Linked DNA regions of Homo sapiens: regions 1 and 3 are each linked to region 2. A link means that fine-mapping ties the variant in region 2 to the expression of a gene that starts in the linked region. Tissue or cell type: esophagus mucosa. Region 2 holds a variant in brackets; each other region holds the start of a gene. All regions are shown on one strand. Distances are between the middles of the regions.

What was found. PIP is the estimated chance that this variant, and not a neighbour inherited with it, causes the effect.
Region 1: it holds the start of CDH16, and the variant in region 2 is fine-mapped to the expression of CDH16 in esophagus mucosa (GTEx, PIP 0.98).
Region 3: it holds the start of CIAO2B, and the variant in region 2 is fine-mapped to the expression of CIAO2B in esophagus mucosa (GTEx, PIP above 0.99).

The regions. Positions count from the first base shown.
Region 1 is chr16:66,915,344-66,923,440 of GRCh38, forward strand. It overlaps CDH16 (cadherin 16), which reads right to left and starts at 3,542. Exons shown (of 18, transcript NM_004062.4): 1 at 3,461-3,542; 2 at 2,678-2,735; 3 at 2,299-2,382; 4 at 931-1,086; 5 at 722-860; 6 at 1-35. The coding sequence starts at 2,722. It overlaps RRAD (RRAD, Ras related glycolysis inhibitor and calcium channel regulator), which reads right to left. Exons shown (of 5, transcript NM_004165.3): 5 at 6,342-7,010. The coding sequence ends at 6,733. RefSeq lists enhancers at 6,299-6,822, 6,823-7,346.
Region 2 is chr16:66,893,804-66,901,904 of GRCh38, forward strand. It overlaps LOC124903700 (a long non-coding RNA gene), which reads left to right. Exons shown (of 2, transcript XR_007065089.1): 2 at 1,192-3,211. It overlaps LOC107984821 (a long non-coding RNA gene), which reads right to left. Exons shown (of 3, transcript XR_001752244.2): 2 at 6,790-6,865; 3 at 5,886-6,690. Among named protein-coding and RNA genes, the nearest start is that of PDP2, 17 kb to the left of the region's middle. RefSeq lists enhancers at 5,305-6,200, 6,201-7,094. The variant T/C (reference allele first, on the strand shown) is at 3,641.
Region 3 is chr16:66,931,149-66,939,245 of GRCh38, forward strand. It overlaps CIAO2B (cytosolic iron-sulfur assembly component 2B), which reads right to left and starts at 3,254. Exons shown (of 5, transcript NM_016062.4): 1 at 3,075-3,254; 2 at 2,839-2,918; 3 at 2,466-2,591; 4 at 1,632-1,677; 5 at 917-1,152. The coding sequence starts at 3,216. The coding sequence ends at 1,055. It overlaps CES2 (carboxylesterase 2), which reads left to right and starts at 4,368. Exons shown (of 12, transcript NM_001365405.1): 1 at 4,368-4,563; 2 at 6,889-7,093; 3 at 8,069-8,097. The coding sequence starts at 4,488. RefSeq lists enhancers at 2,860-2,909, 2,940-3,139, 3,978-4,590.

The DNA of each region.
Region 1 (8,097 bases), 22 kb after region 2:
CCGGTCTGAAGCCTCAAGGAAGAGGAAGGGGATGCCTGGTTCACGGTGGGAGGGCAAACTGTAAGGGATAGAGAGGGTGGGGAGAGTCTCCCATGCCTCTCCTATTTCTCCTCTGTCCTTTCTTCCCTATCCATTATCACATCAGGACTCCGGAGATGAGCCACGGCTTTTCGTCCTACTTCCCAGATGAGCAAACTGAAGCCAAGAATGGATGGCACCCTCAGTGGAGTAGGGAGGAACAAGGTGGGACAGAAATGGTACAGGATGGGCCAGGTGCAGTGGCTCATGCCTGTAATTCCAGCACTTTGGGAGGCTGAGGCAGGCAGACCACCTGAGGCCAGGAGTTCGAGACCAGCCTGGCCAACAAGGCGAAACCCCGTCTCTTTTAAAAATACAAAAAAAATTAGCCGGGCATGGTGGCGGGTGCCTGTAATCCCAGCTTCTTGGGAGGCTGAAGCAGGAGAATTGCTTAAACCTAGGAGGTGGAGGTTGCAGTGAGCTGAGATCGCGCCATTGCGCTCCACTCCAACCTGGGTGACAGTGAGTCTCCATCTCAAAAAAAAGAAAAAAAGAAAAGAAAAAAGAGAAAAGAAAAGAAAAAAGAAATGGGACAGAAATGGCTGCCCTGTCCTATGCCAACTGTCTGGCCATCTCTTCGCTCTCTGCTGTTCCATCAAGGCCCACCTGACCTTACTGTAAATTGGCTGCCCTGGTCACTCACCAGGCCTGGTACCCCGGCTCAGCCGAGCTCTGTAGATGGCTTGAGAGAAATGGGGCACCTGGTCATTCTCATCCTTCACGTGCACAAGCACAGGCTGTGGACCCCACAAGACATGTCCATCCTGCATCTCCAGGGTGACCTGGCAGGGAAGGGGAGTCAGCGTCTGGCTCTGCCTTGCCTGCTCTCCCCTACACCTGGCCCAGCCATACCTGTAGCTGGTACTCTGCCTGCTCCTCTCGGTCCAGGGCCCTGGTCACCAGCAGGAAGCCAGAATCTGGATCCATAGCAAATGGGCCCTCAGTTGCCTTGCCTGAGTCCCCTGACAGCACGATCTGGCCTTCAGCCCCCTCACGGGGCAGCGGCAACTGATGGAAATGAACAGAAGTGAAGGGAGCGGTGGCCAGGCCTGGGAGATGCCCCTCCTCCACCTGATGGCCTCATTTTACATGTGGGGAAACTGAGTCTCAGAGACATCTGGCTCCTGTCAGAGGTCACACAGCCAGTAAGCATCAGGACTGAGACTCAGAGCCAGAACTCTTTTCCCTGGACCTGATGCTCCCCAAAACTCTCTGCCCTTCTTTCTGAAGCTTGAAACCTCACCACCGAGATTTCGTTCTTTAATCTAAAGCTCTGCTCTCCACTAGGATTAAAATCTGTTAGTCATTCCCACTGCAGGTTGAGCATCTCTAACCCGAAAATCTGAAATCTGAAATACTCAAAATCTGAAACTTTTTGAGCGCCAATATGATGTGACAAGTACAGAATGCCGCATCTGACCTCATGTGACAGGTCACAGTCAACACATAGTCAGAACTTTGTTTCATGCACAAAATCATTAAAAATATTCGCCCAGGAGCAGACTCACACTGGGCTCTTGGCCACTCAAGGATTCTGTCGGAATTTCACCTCTGTACTGTCAGCTCCTTCTGGCCATAGCCTCCCCAGCTCGCAAATCCCAAAGTGGTAATCCCAGCACTTTGGGAGCCCAAGACGGGCGGCTCACCTGAGGTGAGGTGTTCAAGACCAGCCTGGCCAACATGGCGAAACCCTGTCTCTACTAAAAATACAAAAAAAAAAAAAAAAAATTAGCCAGGAGTGGTGGTGCATGCCTGTAGTCCCAGCTACTCAGGAGGCTGAGGCAGGAGAATCTCTTGAACCCAGGACGTGGAAGTTGCAGTGAGCTGAGAACATGCTACTGCACTCCAGCCTGGGCGACAAGAGCGAAACTTCGTCTCAAAAGAAAAAAAAATGTATAACGTTACCTTCAGGCTATGTGTATAAGATGTATATGAAACATAAATGAATTTCCTATCTAGATTTGGGTTCCATTCCCCAAGATATCTCATGATATATATGCAAATATTCCAAAATCTGAAGAAAAAAAAAAATCCAAAATCTGAAACACTTCTGGTCCCAAGCATTTCAGATAGGGGACACTCAACCTGTGTAACGTGTACATACTCTCTGGAAAGCAGGATTTCAAAGAGAAACAGCAAGAGGAAGGGTGCCAGAGGAAGGAGAAGCAGGACTTTGCGGGGAGGGATCCCCCCGGCCCCAACCCCAGCTCTCCGGCTCACCTTGGTCAGGTATAAAGGGAAATTTCCACCATAGTTTTCTGGAACTTCCACAGACAGCTCTGCAGGCTGGGCCTTGGGGAGAGCCTGTGGGAGGATTCTCACCTTGTCACCAGGCTCTATCTTCCTGCGTGGGCACTGAGACCCAACAGAAGAGCGGAATTTCCGCCCCTTCCCAGGGCCTGGCTGTACCTTAGTCCATCCACCCGCGCTCTGGTCTTTGACCTCCTCATCCCACAGTGGCTCTATAGTCCCAGCTCTGACCCCTCCCATGCCTTGCACCGTTCTCACGGTCAGTGCAATTGGTCCAGGTGGAGTTGGGGGCAAGGGTGTCAACCCCCAAAGCCAAGACCTGAAGGAGAGGGGGCAGGGCCTAGCTCACCTGGGGGACGGAGACACAAAGCAGCCACAGCCAGGCAGGGACCATGGTCAGGACAGGCCTGAGGGACACGGCAGTGAGGATCCAGCCCAGGTGGGTAGGGAGGGGCTTTCCATCCCACACACACAACTAGTGGGATCGTACTGCAGACTAGTCTTCTCTTCCTCCCCTCCAAAGGAGCTGAGGCTCTCCATCTCCTGCAGGGTAGTGCCCTGCTCCTCGGCCAGGCCCACCAAGGCCCCCAGGCCCAGCCACCCTGCTTCTAGGCTCTTGGTCCATCAAGCACTCTATCAGAATTTCACCTCCAGACCTCCAGCTCCTTCTCACCATAGCCTCCCCAGGCCGCAGATCCCAAAGTGGTAATTTTCTAGCAATCCCCCAAATCACAAAAGTTTGAAGCTGGAAAGTTCCTGAAGACTTGGAGGGTCACTTCCTGAAGTCACCTCTTGTTGCAGGCAAGGCCTGAATGCTGGGGTCTGGCCAAGGTCACAGAGGACTTGACCACAGGAGGAGTCCTCCTAGCTCAGGGCCTCTGGGACTGTCCTGCCTCCCACTGCCACCTTCTAGACAAGGAGAACCCCCGGAGCAGGAGCCCGGCCCTTGTCTCATCATTTTCCAGCCCTTGTCATGGAGCTGGGCAGGCAGAGCAGCGACAAATCGACAACCCCTCTAAGATGAGGCCCTGGGAATTCTTTCCCAGATGGCGAGGACAGGGCAGTGTTTCTCCTTTCCCCACCACCAACCTCAGCCTCAGCCATGCCCTCCCCTCCACTCCCAGCCCCTCACCCTCCAGCGCCCAAGACTGGCTCCCTTGGTCCAGCTGCCAAGCAAGAAGAGAGCTCCTTCTCCAGGGGGCTCTGGCCAGGCTGGGCTGGGTGGGGCAAGGCAGGGCACTTGAGCAGGTAGGAGGGTTCAGCCACGCTTGCTCAGGAGTGGAAAAGGCCACTGGGCCCACAGCAGCAGGCCTGGCCCCGCCCAGCCCCCCAAGTTACTCATTGACTTTGGAAAGCCAGGAGCTGCTCAGCATCCGTGACTGCCAGCTCCAGGAGGTGGGGAGATGGTTGGCCTGGCACTCCCTCGACCCCAGCACAGCCCAGGAGGTATTCCTTGGCCCTCTGGTTCTGGACGTTACTTTTTCTGTGGCTCCAGACTTGGTCTGACTTATCTCCCAGGCTCCAGTGTCTGCAGCCACACCTTTTCACACTCTGTTCCTTTTGCATGGAACACCCTTCCCACTCATTCATCTGTGTGGTAAGCACCTGCTCATGCATGCTTCAGTGCTCAGCTCAAATATTCCTTTTTCCAGGAAACTTCCCCTATGTTCCCAGGCTTGTTCAGGAGCCTCCTCTGGGAATGCCCCTCCCCCTCACACCATGCCATGTGCTATCTCTATTAATACACAGAGGACACCAGCTTGTCATTGTCTGCCTCTTCCATTAGATTGGGAGCCCTTTGAGAGCAGAACTCAGGGACTCAGGAATGACCTGGCTCTCATTCTGCCCTGGCAGCTCCGCATGGCTTGTGGAACTAAGACAAGGAGCTGGAGGTTGCAAAGGATGGGTGAGCAGTACATGAGTGGAAGTGGGTATTGGGGCTCCAGACCACCCCCCCCAGGGGGACCTGTGGTGGGGGAGTGCAGCAGCCTATGAGCTCCCGAAGTCCTTACACTGGCCACTCAACAGTGACAGGGCTGAGACAGTGGGCAGTCTCATGCCCCTAAGAAGATTAAACTGGCTCAGGTGACCTTGAGGGAGTTGCAGGGCTGAACAGGGGCTCTCCCCGCAATGAGGGCAGCCAAGCAGAGCCAGGAGATGCTTCTGGGGCCTGGGAGTCTGGAATGAGGGGAGAGGGTGGGAAGAAGGTCTCCAGTCCCTCTCCAGCCTTGGAGCTTCCCATGGTCCCCACGAAGTCCTTCCCACTGTACATCTGATTAGTCTCTCTCAGGCCAGAAGCTACCCCCAGCTGCCCCCAGCCTTGTCACAAGCTGAGTGCCTGCTTCAGGGTCACTCTGGCACCCAGCCTGGAGCAGTGTAGTGTGGGGAGGTTGAAGGGGGTTTCACACGTGTTAAGCTCCTGCTCTGTGCCCAGCACTGCTCTGAGCACATACCTTCATTATGCCACATACTGCGTTCTGAAGGGGCATTGGGCACATGCTGGGGCACAGAGAAGCTGAGTGGTTTGCCTAGGGTCACACAGTCAATAAGTGACAGAGCCAGGAAGGCCTGGGGACCCTCACTTGATCTGAAAATACCATGCCTTCTGCATTCCTTGAAGTATGTGGGGAGGAGGGGCAGAGCAGCAACAGCTCTGAGCAGTTACCTCTGCCCTGGGGAGCACGTGGGTGAATCTCAGCGCTCCCCTGTACATGGAGGGGCAGCCCTCAAGCCTCCTCCTGCCATTCAATAAGCTGCAATCAGGATTCTAACCAGGTTGCCAGGGCTCCCTGGAGTCTGTGGAATGAATAAATTGAATAAATTGAACTAAGGAAGGAATGTATGGACCTTGGCCCAGAACCTTCTTAGAAACTGCCCCCCACCTTGCCCCAGGCTGCCTCCAGGCTTTGGAGATGGGCAGACCTGTATACCAGTCCCCACTCAGCCACTTCCCACCCAGCACCAGATGGGGATGGTTTTTCCTGAGACCATGTAGATAAAAACTCTTAGCAGCACTTGTGCCGAGGGTGAGGGAATGAATAAATTGAATAAATTGAACTAAGGAAGGAATGTATGGACCTTGGCCCAGAACCTTCTTAGAAACTGCCCCCCACCTCGCCCCAGGCTGCCTCCAGGCTTTGGAGATGGGCAGACCTGTATACCAGTCCCCACTCAGCCACTTCCCACCCAGCACCAGATGGGGATGGTTTTTCCTGAGACCATGTAGATAAAAACTCTTAGCAGCACTTGTGCCGAGGGTGAGGGAGCCATGGGCATGGGTGGGCAGGGAGACAGGTGCATCCCTAAACATAAGCACGAGTACACCTTCCTATACAAATGCAAGACCTCTCATTCCAGGCAGGGCGGGCTCCCGGCAGCTGTTCCCACCAAAACTGAATTAGCCAATGCTGAGCATGGAATGTTCTGGCCTGGATACTCATGGTAGAGAGAACAGTGAGTGCCTCCTCCGTAGCTCAACCCCAGTGAAGTGGTGGAGGAGCCATGTGGAGCTGTGTGTGCCTTCACAAACCACCCCTCGGAGGTCTCTATCCCCAACCTCAGCTGATTCCAGCCCCTCAAGAGGGAACAGGGCAGAAATACCAGCTGTGGAGCCAGATCCTGTCTGGTTGTGAGACCCAGGGTTCCTGCCTGGTTGTGAGACCCAGGGTTCCTGCCTGGTTGTGAGACCCAGGGCAGAATGTGCTCCCCTGAGCAGCCTGTTTCCCTTTATGGACAGTGAAGTGATTGAACCCTCAATCAGTTGGGCAACGCCAGGCCCCAGTGCAGAAAGAGAAGAATCTGGATAACAGGGACTGGGAGGGGTTTGTGTCTCCTGCTCCTTGAACCTCTAACCAGACCCGATGCCCATCCCAGCTGGCTAAATCTGGACCCTCACATTAACACATCATGGCCACACACTAGGGTGGGGCAGTGAGCCCCCATCCCTCAACTTCAGAAATCCTTCCAGCTCCTGAAGCGCCCAGATAGGAGGAAAGAGAGTCAACAGCCATGACTATCAGGAAATAGCCTTTATTACAAAAATCTGCATGTAAACAAATAGCTACCGCACTGAAGAGCCTCCCTCCAGGGCAGGCACACCCGGGCTGTGAAAAAAGGCAGAGTCCTCTCCCGGCACGCAGGCCTGCCCGGCGGCTGCGCTGCGGCTGCTTGGGACGCATATGAGCCTGCGCATGCATCTCTGTGGGCCCAGCCCTCACTGGCCCCTGAGAGCCACTTCGCAGGGCAGCACTGTCTATCTGTCCATGACCATGAGGTTGGGGGTGCCCGGCTGGCAGCTCCGAGGGACCCAGAGTCTGAGCCTGCTCTGAGGCACCCGGGGCAGTTGGCTGGGCCAGCCCACCAACCCTTCCGTTCGTCTCCCACCATAGTGGGAGCGGGTGGGACCTAGAGAACCGAGAGGTCGTGGCAGGACTTGGATTTGGCGCGAAAGGCCATCTTGCGGCTGTTACGAGCTACGATGCGGCCCAAGAAGCGCTTCGCCTTTTTGCCAAGGCTCTCTCGCCTCCGGGTGCCTGCTTGCCGTCGTGCGTTGGCTTCTTTGCTGTCCCTGCGCAGGCGTATCTGGCGCACGACACCTTCAAACAGCGCCTGGACATTGTGGTGCAATGCCGCTGATGTCTCAATGAACTTGCAGTCAAAGACCACCGCGCAGGCCCGGCCCTCTGTGTGGGTGGGGAAAGGCAGGCACCAGTAAACAAAGGGTGGGTGAATGAGGAGTCCCCTCCAACAGTGGCCACCCATGGAAGCTGCCACTCGAGAATTTGCAAGGTCCTCCCCGAAAACACAGAGACCCCAGCTCCTGTACTGAGGGTACTGGGCACTGCTGCGTCACCCAGTAGGCAGAGTGCCTGCATTTAAGGAGCCCCCAAAACAGTGGCCCTCAAAAGGAGATCCATTTATTGAAATAATTTGAAGCCTGATATTTAAACAAAGTACGACAGTAGTAAACACAGGAAAATGAGAACTATGTTGGACAACTTAGTATTTTATTTTATTTTATTTTATTTTTCTGAGATAGAGTCTCGCTGTCTCCCAGGCTGGAGTGCAGTGGCACAATCTCTGCTCACTGAAAGCTCCGCCTCCCGGGTTCACGCCATTCTCCTGCCTCAGCCTCCCGAGTAGCTGGGACTACAGGCGCCCGCCACCACGCCCGGCTAATTTTTGTATTTTTAGTAGAGATGGGGTTTCACCATGCTAGCCAGGATGGTCTCGATCTCCTGACCTCGTGATCCACCCGCCTCGGCCTCCCAAAGTGCTGGGATTACAGGCGTTAGCCACCCCCTGGCCCATGCCCCGCACAACTTAGTATTTTTTAATTCGAGGTTATATCATGATGAATGATCCAGTGGACTGGGGTTGCGGAGGCAAGGTCACCAAGTCACTGCTGGGTTCCTCTGAGGGGCTCAGTACTGGGGTCCACAGAAAAGGATGCTGAGGCCAAGTGGGAAGGGTCTTCCCCAGGGCCAAGTCTACTCTAAGAATGGCCCAGACCTAGCACACAGGCTCTGACCTCCTGGCCTGTTCCCCTACACTCTCTTCCACCCATTTACCCCCCCAACCAGCCAGGCCAGGACCAAGAGGGGCAGGAGAGGAGGGCCCTGCGGTGCCCAGCTCCCCTATCAGATTTGGTTCTTTCCCCAGCCCTCTGGGGCCTTCCGGAGCCCTGTGAGCAGGCACCAGCTCTCTCCCATTTCCCTCCCCGCCAGTTTTCTTTCTGAACATTTTTAGCCTCTGATGATCCCCAGGGAC
Region 2 (8,101 bases):
ACGTGATCTTGGCTCACTGCAACTTCCACCTCCTGGGTTCAAGTGATTCTTGTGCCTCAGCCTCCCGAGTGGCTGGGACTACAGGCATGTGCAGCCACACCTGGCTAATTTTTGTATTTTAGTAGAGATGAGGTTTCACCATGTTGGCCAGGCTGGTCTCGAACTCCTGACCTCAGGTGATTCACCTGCCCCAGCTTCCCAAAGCAGGCCCATTAACCTAGCCCCTGGGAGAGTGGTCTGTGGAGGGAGTCTCCAAAGCCTACTCTGTCTCAGATCTCAACTCCTTCTGCCTTTCTGGGATTCTGGGAACCCCTCCCATGCCTCACCCCATTTTCCCTGCAACAGATGAACAGAAGGAATGTCTGCCATGAGCTACTGCTCTGTCCACCCTGCACAAGCTTGTGACCCCGTGCAGTGGGTCTGGGATGGGGCTGCAGGGCCACTGTGGAGGCAGCGGGACTAGCCATTGTGGCTAGGTGGGAGGAGCCCTGCAGGTGACCTCCTGGAATGGGAAAATAAGCAAGATCATGTGGTGGCCTCAGGAAGGGCTGGAGGCATGGCTGGCTCTTCATCAGCATAGAGGTAGGGAGGGGGCAAAGCAGAAAGTCCTGCCTCAGTCCCCCACTTTCCCTGCATGTTGATACCAGGGCTTTTGGGTATTCTTGTTTCCTCGTTTGCCTCCTCCTCATCCCCACCCCTGTGGCTACAGTCCTGGTCCCCTGTCCTGCCCTGGGGGTGCACAGGCTGCCTGTGGAATGAGTGAGGAAGGATGGGAGGACTGATGGTGTGGTGGATAGACAATTCAGGGAGGAGCAGGTGAGAGAGAAGGAGGCAAACAGTGAGTGGCTGCATGGCTGTGAAAAGCAAGGAAAGTTGGTGAGGAGTGTCCAGTACCAGAGGGGCTTTGGGTGTGGGTGGATGGAAATGAACAATTCGCCAAAAAAAGAACACTACATAGCCAGGTGTAGTAGTGCATGCCTGTGGTCCCAGCTACTTGGGAGGCTGAAGTGTGAGGATCGCTTGAGCCCGGGAGGTCAAGGCTGCAAAGAGAGATGATCGCACCACTGCACTGCAGCTTGGGTGACAGAATGAGTTCCTGTCTCCAAAACAAAACAAGACAAAACAAACAAACAAAAACAGAAAAAGGGGAACACTACAGAAAGGTGAGGGCCATTCTGTGTTCTCACTCAGGGCCCTGGACACAGGATGATCCCGGATGGTGAGGCGGAGGTGAGGACATTGCTGTATGAGCGGAGAGTTGGCTGAGCTGCTAGAATCCCTTCCTCTGAAACGAAGCAGTGAAGGGATGGTGTGGGGAAGGTTGTCAACCAGCCAGCATGCTCCTGGGCCTGTGGAAGGGGAGAGTGTCCACGGTTCACTTGGGGTCCCAGGGACCTTGCCAGCCCTGTACTGGGCTTTGGCATGAAGGGGTGGAGAAGCTCTTCCAAGCTCTGACTGGTGTCTTGGTTACTAAATCCTGAGGGTGGCATGATGAGAACACCAGTGGGGAGCCTTTGGCTGTGGGGTTCTGTGAGTGAGGCAGCATGAAGCAGAAGTTGCCTCTAGATGTCGCCATCTGACCACACTGGCATCAGCTGAGTGCCGTTGGAGGAAAATGTTCATGAGATGCGGCCTGAGGCCTGTCCCCAGCCCAAGCTGGGTCTCCTGGCGACTGCAGCTTGGAGCACCTTTGGAAAGCCTCCTGGGACTTGGGATGTCTTTGGGGCTGGGAACAAGTGTGGGTGGAGGAAGGGCCGGTCCTGTGGTCACCCAGCCCTGTCTTGTAGGGAAGGAACTGCTGGGGTCCCAGGAGAAGCCAGAGCCAGGCAGTGAGCTCCAGATGGTGGGGGAGTGGCTGCCACCTTGACCATCTTCCCCCGCATGGCTGTTCTCCTCTGTGGACCACCCCATGCCTCTGACCCCCATCCTCCCTACCCCATTCCCTACAGCCAGTCCCCACAACCACTCTTCCAGCAGCCCGGGGGGCCATTCCCATCTGTCCTCCCCTGTCCCAGTTCCAATAATGGACTACACCACCTTTATCTTCCACTGCCCCAAATGACGGCTGTCCGTCTAGTCAGTTCCACCCACTACACCACAGTCATCGTGACCATGTCACTCCTTTGCTCCGAACCATGGCTCCCCCTCACCCTAAGGAGGAAAGCTCAGACTCCCTCTCCCCAGGGTGGCCTCTCCAGCCTCCTCCATCTGTTCCCAGCAGGGTGGGCATGGCTGTCACATGTTCCTAGAACATGCCAGGCCTTTGGCCTTGCTGTTCCCTCCGCTGGAACACCTACCACTGCACCATCCACCTCCACCTGTCTTGTTCCTGCGACTCAGCATGACTCTGCTGAAGCATCCCCTGCCCTGGGAAGACTTCCTGGCTTTCCAGGCAGTACCAGCTCCTGTCTCCAGTTCCCATGGCACTGGGACCTCCATCACATCTCCTCAGATAGCTTGCCAATGTCTGTCAGTCTGTCTGCCCTCTTGGCGGCACCAGGGACCTCCTCTGACTCTCCTCTGAGTCCCCAGGGATCAGCCCAGTGCCTGGTATGAAGTAGGCACTTGCACATGCATTTAAAATGTTAGGGAGGAAAGAGTGGGAAAAGAGAAAGAGATCCTTGTCTTTCCTCACAAGCTGAAGTCACCTCTTGCAAGCATTGGGCCTGTGCCCTGGTTATCCCTGGGATGGAGCCGAGAACCCTCCAACTTTTGCTTCTTGCTATGGGCTTTTTGTTTTGAGACAGAGTCTCACTCTGTTGCCCAGACTGGAGTGCAGTGGCAGGATCATGGCTCACTGTAGCCTCAACAATGTCCGGCCTCTAAGCCCAAGCTAAGCCATCATATCCCTTGTGACCTGCACGTATACATCCAGATCACCTGAAGCAACTGAAGATCCACAGAAGAAGTGAAAATAGCCTTAACTGATGACATTCCACCATTGTGATTTGTTTCTGCCCCACCCTAACTGATCAATGTACTTTGTAATCTGCCCCACCCTTAAGAATGTTCTTTGTAATTCTCCCCACCCTTGAGAAGGTACTTTGTGAGATCCACTCCCTGCCTGCCAAACGTTGCTCCTAACTCCACCGCCTATCCCAAAACCTGTAAGAACTAATGATTAATCCACCACCCTTTCTTTGCTGACTCTCTTTTCGGACTCAGCCCACTTGCACCCAGGTGAAATAAACAGCCTTGTTGCTCACACAAAGCCTGTTTGGTGGTCTCTTCACACGGACACGTGAGACAAACTTCCCCTGGCTCAGGTGATCCTCCCACCTCAGCCTTCCGAGTAGCTGGGGCTACAGGCGTGCACCATCACCTGGCTAATTTTTGTATTTTTTGTGGAGATGAGGTTTCGCCATGTTGCTCCAGCTGGCCCTGTTATGGTTTTAAGGATAACCACAAATTCCTTGACACTCTTTCCATCAAGGAGTGGGGTCTAATTCCTCTCCTCTTGAATCTGGGCTGGCCTTAGAGTCTTGCTTATAACTGTCTCACGCACGTCCATGTGAAGAGAGTCCACCAAACAGGTTTTGTGTGAGCAACAAGGCTGTTTATTTATTTTGGACTCAAGGCGGGCTGAGTCCGAAAAAGGAGTCAGCAAGGGTGGTGGGATTATCATTAGCTCTTATAGGTT[T/C]GGGGATAGACGGTGGAGTTAGGAGCAATGTTTGGCAGGCAGGGAGTGGATCTCACAAAGTACCTTCTCAAGGGTGGGGAGAATTACAAAGAACCTTCTTAAGGGTGGGGGAGATTACAAAGTACATTGATCAGTTAGGGTGGGGAAGAAACAAATCACAATGGTGGAATGTCATCAGTTAAGGCTATTTTCACTTCTTTTGTGGATCTTCAGTTGCTCCAGGCCATCTGGATGTATAGGTGCAGGTCACAAGGGATATGATGGCTTAGCTTGAGCTCAGAGGCCTGACAACAACTAATAGAATATAGTAAGTCTTTATATAATGTCCTCACTTAATGTAGTTCTTGGAAATTGCAGCTTTAAGCAAAATGACATACAAGGAAACCAATTTTGTCATAGGCTAATTGACATAAACAAGAGTTAAGTTCCTACAGCATATTTCTGGTGATAGAAATATCATCAGACTTCTAAATAAAGACCCAAATGCTTCTCATATTAAACATTGAAACACGTGTAAGAAAGACTAATAGAAACAAGGCCAGGTGTGGTGGCTCACACCTGTAATCCCAGCACTTTGGGAGGCTGGGGAAGGTGGATCACCTGAGGTCAGGGATTTGAGACCAGCCTGGCCAACATGGCGAAACCCTGTCTCTCCTAAAAATACAAAAATTAGCCGGGCTTGGTGGTGGGCACCTGTAATCCCAGCTGCTCAGGAGGCTGAGGCAGGAGAATTTCTTGAATCCAGGAGGCGGAGGTTGCAGTGAGCCAAGATTGTGTCATTGCACTCCAGCGTGGGCAACAAGAGTGAAACTCCATCTCAAAAAAAAAAAAAAAAAAGAAAGAAAGAAAGATTAATAAAAACAAGTAATAGAATTATTTATCCAGTTATTCCAGTTCAAGGTCATGGATGGCTGGAGCCTATCCCAGCAGCTCAGGGCGCCAGGCGGGAACCAGGCCTAGACAGGATGCCATTGCCTTGAGTACACTCACACTCATGCAGACTGGGAGCATGCAGACAAGCTAGTTAATCTAACATGCACATCTTTGGGATGGGGGAAGAAACCAGAGTACCCAGAGAAAGTCCTCTACAGACTCCACACAGACAGTAGCCCCAGCCAGAAATAGATTTTTTTCTTCATCAATGTTGTAACAAAATAATGTTGAACAAAATGAGCCAGGAGTGGTCGCACACCCCTGTAGTTCCAGCCACTTGGGAGGCTGAGGCAGAAGGATCGCTTGAACCCAGGAGTTTGAGGTTACAGTGAGCTATGATCATGCCACTGCACTCCAGCCTGAGCAATAGAGACCTGTCTCTAAAACAAACAAACAAACAAACAAACAAATCATTAAAAAAAATAATAAAAGCTTTCAGTGACATCCTCCCATTTCTGCCTCCCACCATCCTCCCCTGCTTCCAAGGAGTCAGAAAAATGTCACAATCCCTTCATGATGTGCAAGGCTGAGTGTGACCTGGCCCTGCCCACTCTTCAACCCCATCTCATACCTCTACCACTTCTGTGCTTCAGCCACTCTGAGTTGCTTCCAGTGAGGGAGTCTCTCTGTTAACTGGACATAGTAGGGACTCAATTTGTGATAATTTGTGATCATAAACTAGGTCACATCTGTGAGCCTTGCTGAGCACTTTACATGTATTATCTCATTTAATCTTCATGCAACCCTATGATCAAGTATTATTAACCCATTTTACAGATGAAGAAACTGAGCCTGGGCATGTAAAAGGTTGTGCCCAAGGTCACAAAAATAGTAAATGCAGAGTCGAGTTTGAAACCCTGGTGTCTGAATCCAAACCTTCCTCAGCAATCATGTGATTCTACCGAATAGGTATTGATTTGATAAGAAGCATGTGCTCCACCTGCTCCCCAAAGGCCGGGCAGCAACTTAGGAGGGAGAGTGAGCTGTTGGTCTATGGAAGCATTCTAGCAAGAGCTGGGGAGCACTAGGCAAGATGTGAATTGGACGGAGTGTGGGGGCCCCACCCTGAGGCTGGGACCTCTGCCTATGCCTGGGATTGGGGGCTGTGTGCACGCATGGGTCATGTGATACCCTGTATATGGCCTTTCCCTGTGTCCAGGCCAGCCTAGTCCTTGGGGCTGGGGGTGGGCAAGAGCAGGTGGAAGCTTGGGGAGCCCGCCTCGAGCAGGCAGAGTCCAGCAGACCATAGCCTGTCCACTGTCCTGACCCTGTGGCCCTGGACTGGCCTCTGCCCTGGGCCTGGCACCTCTGGCTTGGGGAAGGGCCCAGAACTACTCAGGCACACAGTGAGGCCTGCCCTCCCACCTGCTACCAGGCAGAATTTATCTCAACTGAGTGAGAAATAGAGAGAGGGAGAGAGAAAGAGAGAAAGGGAGAGAGAGAGAGAGGCAATTGCGTAAGAGGATTTGAACAAAAATGGTTATGGCACTGGTGTTTGTAAGAAAGAGAAACTGGACACTGTTTACATGTCCTCCTCAAGGGCTGGACAAAGAGATTCTGATGTGTCCATCCTGGCAGACTTTAGAAATAATTAGGAAAAGAAAAAGTGATGGGGGAAGATCTTTATAGTTTATCTGACAGGAAACTGCTAATTGTCAATACTGTAAATGTTGGGGGGAATTGATCACAAAACAGAATGTACAGTGTGACCCCAAGTTGAAATCCTTCCCCCAGCCCTCACACACACTCTTCCACCAGCTCCCTCGTGACTTACCCTGTTGGCCAGTGGCCAGAGGGTGGGGGAGGGGGCTTATCTTGGGAAGTGGATGAGATCACCCCGAGGCTGGCTGGTTTAGTACCGGGTAACCTTTTCTACCCTTATGGCTCTCAGAGGCTTCTGTGCTGGCTCCTAAACCTTGGCGCCAACCTCAGGCTGGAGGGGGTTATGCTCCCCCTCCCCAGGGTGGAGATGGTGGCCAAAGCCGGATAGGGCACAGGTGCTGGGCTGACGCAGAGATGGAGTGGCAGAGGGGGTCTGGGGAGTTCCAGGGCTCAGCTGGGACCCTATGAGAACTCTGCTCCCAGCAGATCTGGGTGTCCTGTCATTTCCCAGGGACCTGTGTGTGCAGAAAATACATTTTGTGGATACAGGAATATCCCAGAGGATAGCCACTGTGTGAAGGGCCGAGGGGTCTCCCTGGCAGTGCCTCTAACACCTTGGCATGTCTTGGGATTCCAGTCAGCCAGCCGGGCTCTCCTCGGACAGGACTCCTCTTGTTTCTGGCCAAAATTCTGGTGAGGATGGTTGTGGGGGGAAGAGATAAGTCTGTGTTGGGAAAGGGACTAGGGCTCAATTCCAGCTCAGCAAATAAATATTCTGTTCAACCCTCTGCCTGCCCCCTACCTCCCACGCCCCCACTCTCCCACCCCCCGGTGCCTATCAGGCGACTTCCAGCCTTAAGGAAACTTTGCAGTGTGTCCCAATCCCCTGAGCACAGCCACACCTCTGAGCCTTTGCCCAGACAGTTGTCCCAACCTGACCACCTTTCCCCTCTCCAGCTGCCTTTGTCAACCCCCACCCTGGAGCTGGGTCAGGTGCCATCTGTCCCCAAGTCAGCGTCCATCATGTCAGCTTGTCTATGTTCATCTGGGGTGAGCCTGAGGGCAGGAGCTGGGTCCAGGGAAAATTCTAGGACATGCTGGATGAAGGAAACAGTGGGCTCCTGGAAGGGATCAGGGGTTGGGAGAGGACCAACTGTGTGCTCAGACCAGCTGTTCTGTGCCAGGGCCTCGAGGGGGGCACCTAGGAGCCTCAGGCCCCTCAAACCCCACAGCAAACAGCAAGAGAACAGGGTGTGGGGCACTCTGCCTGGGCTCTGCCGGCGAGGAGCAGGAACTGGACAGAACCAGAGTGAGCTGGAGTGTCTCCTCCTTAGCCTGGGCCCTGGGCAGCAGGGCTGGGAATGGAATTCTCCAGTTGGATGGAGCTGTTCCTGGAAAATCCCTATATGCCCTCCCAGAAATGTGCTCTTGTGCCTGGCTCTTGCTTCTTCAGAGTTGGAGGAGAAGGGACCTTTCTGCTGCTAGGCAATTCAGGCAAGGCCCTTACCCTCTCTGGACCCCTGGGCCTAGACTCCAGGACAGATGAGCAGGGATTTGTGCATCTATTGAGTGCCATCTGTCAGCCTCACTAAATTCTCTCACCCACCCTGAGAGGCAGGGATCAGGGTTCCCATCATTTGGGAAGGAGGTAGATGCTCGGAGATGCCAAGTGGCTTACCCAAGGTCACATAGCGGAGTTGGGACTCAAGCCCCTACCGATCGAGCGTCAGCCTGCACGCAGTTCCAGCCCCCGACCTACATTTAGGGTCCCTGAATGGACAGAGCAAGCCCGCAGGCTGAGGATGCCACTGCCAGCTCAGGTCCACCTGACTGAGGCCAGGCCTGGCCCTGTGCCTGCCACTCAGAATAACCCTTGTGGTTCTGGGCATGGATCGTGGCCCATCACCTGGGACCTATTTTTGTCCT
Region 3 (8,097 bases), 37 kb after region 2:
AAAAATAAAAATAAATAAATAAATAAATAAATAAATATTCTTTTGATTGGGCTGGTTGGGGTGGCTCATACCTGTAATCCCAACATTTTGGGAGGATGAGGCAGGAAGATCACTTAAGCCCAGGAGCTAGAGTCCGGCCTGGGCAACCTAGGAGACCCTGTCTCTACAAGAAAATTAAAAATTAGCCAGGCACGGTGGTGCATGCCTGTAGTCCCAACTATTCGGGAGGCTGAAGTGGGAGGATCGCTTGAGCCCAGGAGGTCAAGGCTGCAGAAAGGTATAATTGTGCCACTGTATTCCAGCCTGGGCAACAGAGCAAGACTGTGTCCCCTCAAAGAAAAAAAAATTTGGCCAGGAATGGTGGTGTATGCCTGTAATCCAAGCTACTTGGGAGGCCAAGGCTGGAGGATTGCTTGAACCCAGGAGTTGGAGGCTGCAGTGAGCTACAATCTTGCCACTGCACCTGGGCCTGGGCAACAGGGTAAGACCTTGTCTCAAAAACAAAACAAAAACAACTATGATGACACATTAGGGAAATCCAGATATGCCTGGGTATTAGATGGTGTTGAGGAACTGTTCATTTTCTGATCAGATAAAAGTATTGTGGCTATACAGGCTTATATTGACTATAGGAGCTGCAGTACTTCAAAGTGAAGAGTCAAGTCTCTGCAGCTTACTTACTGATATTTATATATGCACACATAAATATGGCCAGTGTTGCAATATGTCAACAACTGTTGACTCTACTGGTGGTGGTGAGCATACAGGCACATTCGTACACTACTCTTTCCATTTTGATTTTATTTTACGAAAAGTTGCAAGTACACCACCCTTTAGAGGCACTTACTACCACCATCCCCCCCTCAAACTCCAAATGACTCCACCAAGATGAAAGACACCAAGGCATGCTGGGAACTGAATATAAATTAACTTTATTACAAAAAGCAAAATGTTAGTTTCTCATTGTGAGTGATTCAAGAAAACAACGGTAACAGCCCTGGCAGGAGCTGGGACCAGGATACCAGTATGCAGGCTGAGGGGTCAAAGGCCAGGCTCAGGAGCGGGCTGACAGGCACTGATTCACAACCTCCAAGAGGTGGGTGTTCTCCAGGGCAGCTGCCACCCGCTCCTTATCTGCAAGTTGCTTGTTCACTAGGTGGGAAGAAGGGTGTGGGGAAGGCAGAGTCAAAGCTAGGCTCTGGCCAGAGTGCTAGCCAGCCCTACCTCTGAACCTCTATATAGGATATGTCCCCCGCAGCAACAGAGCCCTCCTGTCACCTCCTTCCCAGGACCCCACATATTGATCAGGCTACTTCAACCACCTGAGCCCACCTAATCTGCCTTCTTAGGATCCCTCCCCCTGGCTGCCTCCTGCGCTGCTGAAGCCTGACACACTCTGGTCCTGTATATTTGGTGAGAGGGGATTTGGGAGAAGAGGACATGGTAAGCAAAGGAGAGTCTTCTCAGGCCAGCTTCGGTCTAGGCTATAACCCATACTGAGGAGTCTCTGGCAATTTCACTCACACAGTTACCCATCTCCAGTCTTGCCCATAGACTCCTGTGCAAGGGGGAAGCCTCAGACTGCTTAGGGGGTGCCCGGGCCAACACCCTCACCACCAGTCCACACTTACCTGCATGCTCTGAGGCATGGGTCCCCGGAGTAATGTGCACGTCCATCTGGGAGGGAGATAACCAGGGCCTGAACACCCACCCACCGACCCACACTTTTCCCTGCAGCCCCCAGACCCTCAGGCACCATCTCCAGCTGATCCTTCCTCCTAATCATGCCTTTGGACTCTGGCCCTTCCGTTACACCCCAAACCCATCCACAGGTATTCCAATTCTTTTTTTTTTTCCAAGACTGAGTCTTGCTCTGTTGCCCAGGCTGGAGTGCAGCAGCGCAATCTCGGCTCACTGCAACCTCTGTCTCCCAGGTTCAATTTGATTCTCCTTCCTCAGCCACCCGTGTAGCTGGGACCACAGGCACACACCACCACGCCCCACTAATTTTTGTATTTTTAGTAGAGATGAGATTTCACCATGTTGGCCAGGCTGGTCTCCAACTCCTAACCTCAGATGATCCACCCGCCTCAGCCTCCCAAAGTGCTGGGATTACAGGCGTGAGCCACCGCGCCCGGCCCTAGCTATTCCAATTCTATCCAAAGAACTGGCCCACTACTGTTGATTTAAAGGCCTGCCTGTGCCCCACCCCTGGTCCAAACCCATCTGCCGCTCCCTACTGCCCTTCCTGCCACACTCTTCAATACTTTTCTCCACTTTCCAGCTCAGATCTTTATTCTTGTCACATCGACTTGGAAAGCTTCCTCCCAGTTTCCTCTCTGCTAATGGGGATCCTTCCAGGCCCCACTCTGATGTCCTATCCATGTTCATGCTCTCCCAGTCCCCATCCTCAGCAGTAGACCCTCAATGCCTGGTCTCACTCCCGGGGCTCAGCTCCAACTGACCTTGAAACGCTGAGGAAGGGAGCGCAGAAGCTTGACCTTGATGGACAGACCAATAAGGGTGGCCATGCTGCAGTGCGGAATGGTTGGTGTGAAAGCCACAGCCACTGTACTCTCGGGGTCGCTAACCTGGTTGTGGAGGAGAGATGTCAAGAGTCAACCACCCTCAGCCCAAGGTCCCTCTTCTTAGTTTGTTGTTTTGGGCAAATCATCCAACTTCTATGGGCCTCAGTTTCAACACCCATAAAATAGGCACAACAATCTCCCTCCCCAAAGATACCCTTCGGTGTTCGTGAGCATAGAGCACGCCAGCTCCTGCTGCACAGAAACCTTTCTGACTCTCTGGAACAACTCGCTCCCCTCGGAAGTGACTCACCTGAACCCGCACCTGCTCTACTACGTTCAACTCCTCTAGCGTCAGTGGATGCTCCGGGTCATTGATGGAGCGAATCAGATGTGGGAAGTGAAGGAAAAGGGACTCTGCGCCCTTGCCCACTTAGAACCCTCTGCCAGGAACGCCCTGCTGGGATGCGGCTCCACCAGCTGCTCGATATCACTGCTCCCCCCACCGCAAGCCCCCGGAACCCGCCCGCGCCCAGCAGCGGCGGATATCGAAGATCTCGCGTGCGTCGATGCTGTCGGGAACCTGCTCGTCCTCCTCGCCTGCCGTCACAGGCCGCTCCCCAGAGCGCTGGTAGATGAGGGGGTTGGCATTCTCCAGGAGGCCGCCGCCGACCCCGCCGCCGCCTACCATCGCGGAACCACCACCGCTGATCCTAGCAGGCGTGCGCTTCCGCTCCAACCCGCGCACTTCCGGAGAACGGGAAGGGGGCGTGGCGTGGCGACGGAGTCGCGCGAGGGACACGCCGCGTTGTGGGTTCTCGGCCTGAGGTGCGAGAGAAGCGGTGACCGCGGCCCTGGCTGCTCGGACCCGGGAACATGATGGTCGCTGGAGCAGAAGGCGCTGAGAAGGGACCACGGCGGCGCTGGGTCGTGCGAGCCAGTAGCGGGCTGAAACGTAGAGGCCAGAACCAGGTCTCAGGGGGCACTAAAGGCGGTCGGAGGTAATCCCCACACCGCTTCCTCCTGGAAGTCAGGCTGGCCGGGAGCTCCCGTATCCAGGACGGTTGGTCGCCTCTGGCCTGGCAGGGATCCTAGTGTCTCGGGACCTCCCGGTGACGCGCCTGCCTCCCCTGCTGCACCATAGGCCCGGGAGTACGGCGTCCCCACAGCTTGGACCGGCAGGGGCTCGTGAAATGTTTGTCAAGTGGATAAATGACCATGGCCGTGGTCTCCGCGGGAGGTGAGGAAACTGAAAGCCACCGAGGAAAAGGGGGGCGCTCCTTAAGAAGTGCCGCGGTCACGTGTACGTTTCAAAAGAATGGCGTGACTGAGTAGGGAGGGGACCGCGGAGACCCTCAGACCCTGGACTGTAAGGAGATGAGGGGCCGTGAAGGGGAACCCAGGAAACTGAGTCCTGAAAGCAAGGAGGAACTTCCAGAATGAAGGGCGCCGACACTCCTTCCTGCCTTTGCTCAAGCGGTTCCTTCACCCCGATCAAGTTCCTTCCCATTTCTCCATCTGGGGGATCCTGAACGTGCACATCCTCAGAGAAGCCCTCCTGGGGTCTCCAATTCTAGTTTATTGCCCCCTCCTATCGATCCCCCAGCGCGCTCATCGGGCCTGTGGACAAGGACAGGTTTGAAGAGAGGATTCCCTGGATCGCGGAAGGGCTGCAGGAATGGCACAGCCCCTTCCGAGGATGCCAAAGGAGCCCGGGCAAAGGAAAGTGGCCGTGCCCGGGCCTGCCTACCACTAGATCCCCACCCACCTATGACTGCTCAGTCCCGCTCTCCTACCACACCCACCTTTCCCGGCCCAAGCCAGCGCACCCCGCTGACTCCCTGCCCAGTCCAAACTCCAAGGCTGGGCAAGGCACTGATCCACTGCTGGACAGACCCGGGGCAGCCTCTGGGTGAACAGCAGCGTGTCCGCCGGCAGCGAACCGAGACCAGCGAGCCGACCATGCGGCTGCACAGACTTCGTGCGCGGCTGAGCGCGGTGGCCTGTGGGCTTCTGCTGCTTCTTGTCCGGGGCCAGGGTGAGGCTCCCTCGGAGGGGCGACAGGGACCGGGCTCAGATCTGCCAAATGCTGCGGAGGCAGAACCTGACAGTGCGGGAGGGCAGGCGCCTGGGAGGTAGGAGCTGGTGGAGATGACAGCGTGGAACTCGTGAGCCCCACGCAACGCCTCCCCGCCGCCCAAGGTGGGCTCCTAGAAGCACAGAAAGGGTCGGGCTGGGGGACACCACGGCAAGGAACCAGCGGAGTACAGGGGCCCCAGGAGCGCCGGGACATGCCAGGCCGGGTAGGCAGCCTGGGGTCGGAGTGGGTGAGGGATTGGGGTGTGGGGATTCAGTCCATTTCCCTCTTATGATTGTGGCTGTAGCGGGTGCTGCCGGCCGGTAATAACAGTAATAGCTTCTGGCAGCATCTGGCTCTCAGTGTGTGGCGTCCTTGGCCAGGGGGGATGCCCTGAGCCCTCCAAAGGGGCCTCAGACAAGGATAGTGGTCCTTGGGGAACAGAAGCCCCCAGGCGCCAAATCCTAAAGCAGATCTAAGAGGCCACAGTGGCTGGGTGCGATTGGCTCACTCCTTTAATCCCACCACTTTAGAAGGCCAAGGGAGAGTATCGCTTGTGCCCAGGAGTTGGAGGCCAGCCTGGACAACATAGTGAGACTCGGAGTGTACAAAAAATTGAAAGAAATTAGTGGGCTGTGGTGGTCTGTGACCTGTAGTCCCAGCTACTTGGGAGGCTGAGGTGGGAGATCACTTTAGTAGGGGAGGTTGAGGCTGCAGTGAGCCTTCATCCCACTACTGCACTCCAGCCTGGGTGAAAAAGCAAAAATCTGTCTCCAGAAACAAGAACCAAAGAGCTCGTGGTGTCCCTCATGCCATTTACCTCATCCTGGGCAAGGGCACAACTTGGCTTCCAGGGCAAAGGTGAAGGCTCTGTGTGCCTGCCAGGCTTCTCCAGGCCCTTATCAGAAGCTGGGGGAGTGTTTCGGCCTTTGGTCCTCTCACCCGAAACTCTCCTAAGTGTATGATCTGTCTCTTCCAACCCTTCCCCAATTTAATTTGCGCAGGTGGAGTCCATACTCCCCCCGCCCCATGGTGCACTGCTGCAGGGCTTCCTCCCGTGCCTGCCCTTGACCACATTCTAGAGTTCACCAGGAGCCCAGCAGGAAGATCTGCCTGGCCTCACAGATGGCTACCTTTTAAAATATTTTGGGCCAGGCACAGTGGCTCACACCTGTTATCCCAGCACTTTGAGAGGCAGAGATGGGAGGATCACTTGAGGCTAGGAGTTAGAGACCAGCTTGGGCAACAAGACTTGTCTCTACCAAAAAAAAAAAAAAAAAAAGTCAAGCATGGTGGCAGACAGCTGTACTCCAAGCTACTCAGGAGGCTGTGGCGGGAGGATCTCAAGCCCAGGAGGTGGAGGCTGCAGTGAGCTGTTATCATATTACTGCATTCCAGCCTGGGCAACAGATGGCGACCTTGTCTGACAAATATATATGTATACAAAATTTTGGGTTGGACCCACATTCAGAAAAAATAATTGACAAGCCATAGGAGGGTACAGGTGATGTGTGCCATCCTCTTTTTACCCAACCAGTCCTGGCTTCTCCTCAGGGGCCATCAAAGTCCCCATGGCCCACACTGGAAACTGCTTGTTGACACCGCAGTACACACAGTGCCCAGCAGTTTACACAAGAATAGATGTGTGCACTTGTCCTTGATTTTCATCTAAACAGTCATAAACTCACCCACTTTCTGGAGCCAGGCTTTTCTACAGCTGGGACTACAGGCATGCACCACCACACCCCGCCAATTTATTTCCTGATTTTTTTGCAGAGACAGAGTCCCACTATGGTCCCCAGGCCAGTCACTGTGCTTTTTATATCCCAGCCACAGCCATACTTTTCTCTTGCACCTCTTTTCACCAACATCACTCATGGTTTGGATGATGCTTTCTTTACATGATTTCTTGCCACTTTGGACATGACATCCCTGAGGACAAGAAACTTGCCTGCCCAATTCCCACCATCATCCTACTGTCACATGACCTGGCACACAGTTGAAGGACACTCTAGTCCCATCAAGGGCATGTGACCCTTTGTTTGAAGGTCCTAGGGCTGAATGATGATGCCTGGCCCCAAGGAGCCTCAGCCTGGTGGGATGGAGACAGGCCCAGGAAGCCAGAGCGGGAAGGGAGTGTTACAGGCAGGAAGTTTGTAAAGCCCATGTTTACAGATCAGAGTCCCTTGAGCTAAGATGAGGATGGCAAGGAAGCAGCAATACCAACAGTTGGGAGGGCAGTCGATTGGTCAAACCCAACCGTGATGTCTGTCTCTCTGCCCACAGGCCAGGACTCAGCCAGTCCCATCCGGACCACACACACGGGGCAGGTGCTGGGGAGTCTTGTCCATGTGAAGGGCGCCAATGCCGGGGTCCAAACCTTCCTGGGAATTCCATTTGCCAAGCCACCTCTAGGTCCGCTGCGATTTGCACCCCCTGAGCCCCCTGAATCTTGGAGTGGTGTGAGGGATGGAACCACCCATCCGGCCATGTAAGCTCTCCAAGGGGTCCAGGGAACTCCAGGCCCTGGGGCAGGGGTGGGGGTGCTCTGAGCTCAGCTAGGCTGCAGTTATCATTTCATCTAAACCCCCACAGCCAGTTTTCCTTCTGAGTTTCGTGGATTCCCACGTGCATTTTTCCAATGAGCATGCTGAGGCTCAGGAGGGCAGAATAACTTCTCAGACTCCTGGATCAGGGCTTGGCATTCAGAAGACATTGGCTCCAGGTGCCGAAGGGAGGGGCAGACACACGTATCTCCCCAGATTCTGGTTATGCCAAGCTTTCTCTGCCACCAGTGGCAGGTGTCTCTGGGAAAGGTTCGGGTTGGCTCTATGAACCTTGTAGGAGCCCCTAACTCTAGTGGCAGATGTTGCAAATACCTGAAGAGAACAGTAGTGGTAGCTTTCTGGGGACCTGCACTCTCCACAGGCACTGTGTCCACTGACAGGACCAGGAGCCATTGGCCAAGAGACATGTATATGTATATGTATATGTTTCCAACTGGAGGCCATGTAGGAATGATGAGTTTTTGAGAGTTTAGACTTGGGATGAGAGACATCCCACTGCCCTTCTCATGAGAAATTAACATCCATTCACTCATGTAGCACACATATGTGGGCTACTCCCCTGTCCCAGGCCTTACGGGTTACAGGAATATAGTGGTGAATGTCAACACATGCAGCCAATGGTTCTCATAGAAACCCCTAAGAGTCAAGGTTTCCGGCAGTGCGAGGAATGATACCCAAGGTCCTCAGTAACCTCGAGGCCTCCCTGGAAGTCCAAGCTGCATCCCAGCTTCCCCAGAGCCTGTGGCCTGTAACTTGGTGGGAAGGGATTTTTGAGAGGGATCATGTGTGAGCAGGATATTGTGGGAAGGGTCTGAGGGTGGCTGGGAGCACCTCTGAACCCAGGGTCTGGTTTTGGCCACAGCCTGGCCCCTGGACTGATTATTTGCCCTGGTTACCAGGTGTCTACAGGACCTCACCGCAGTGGAGT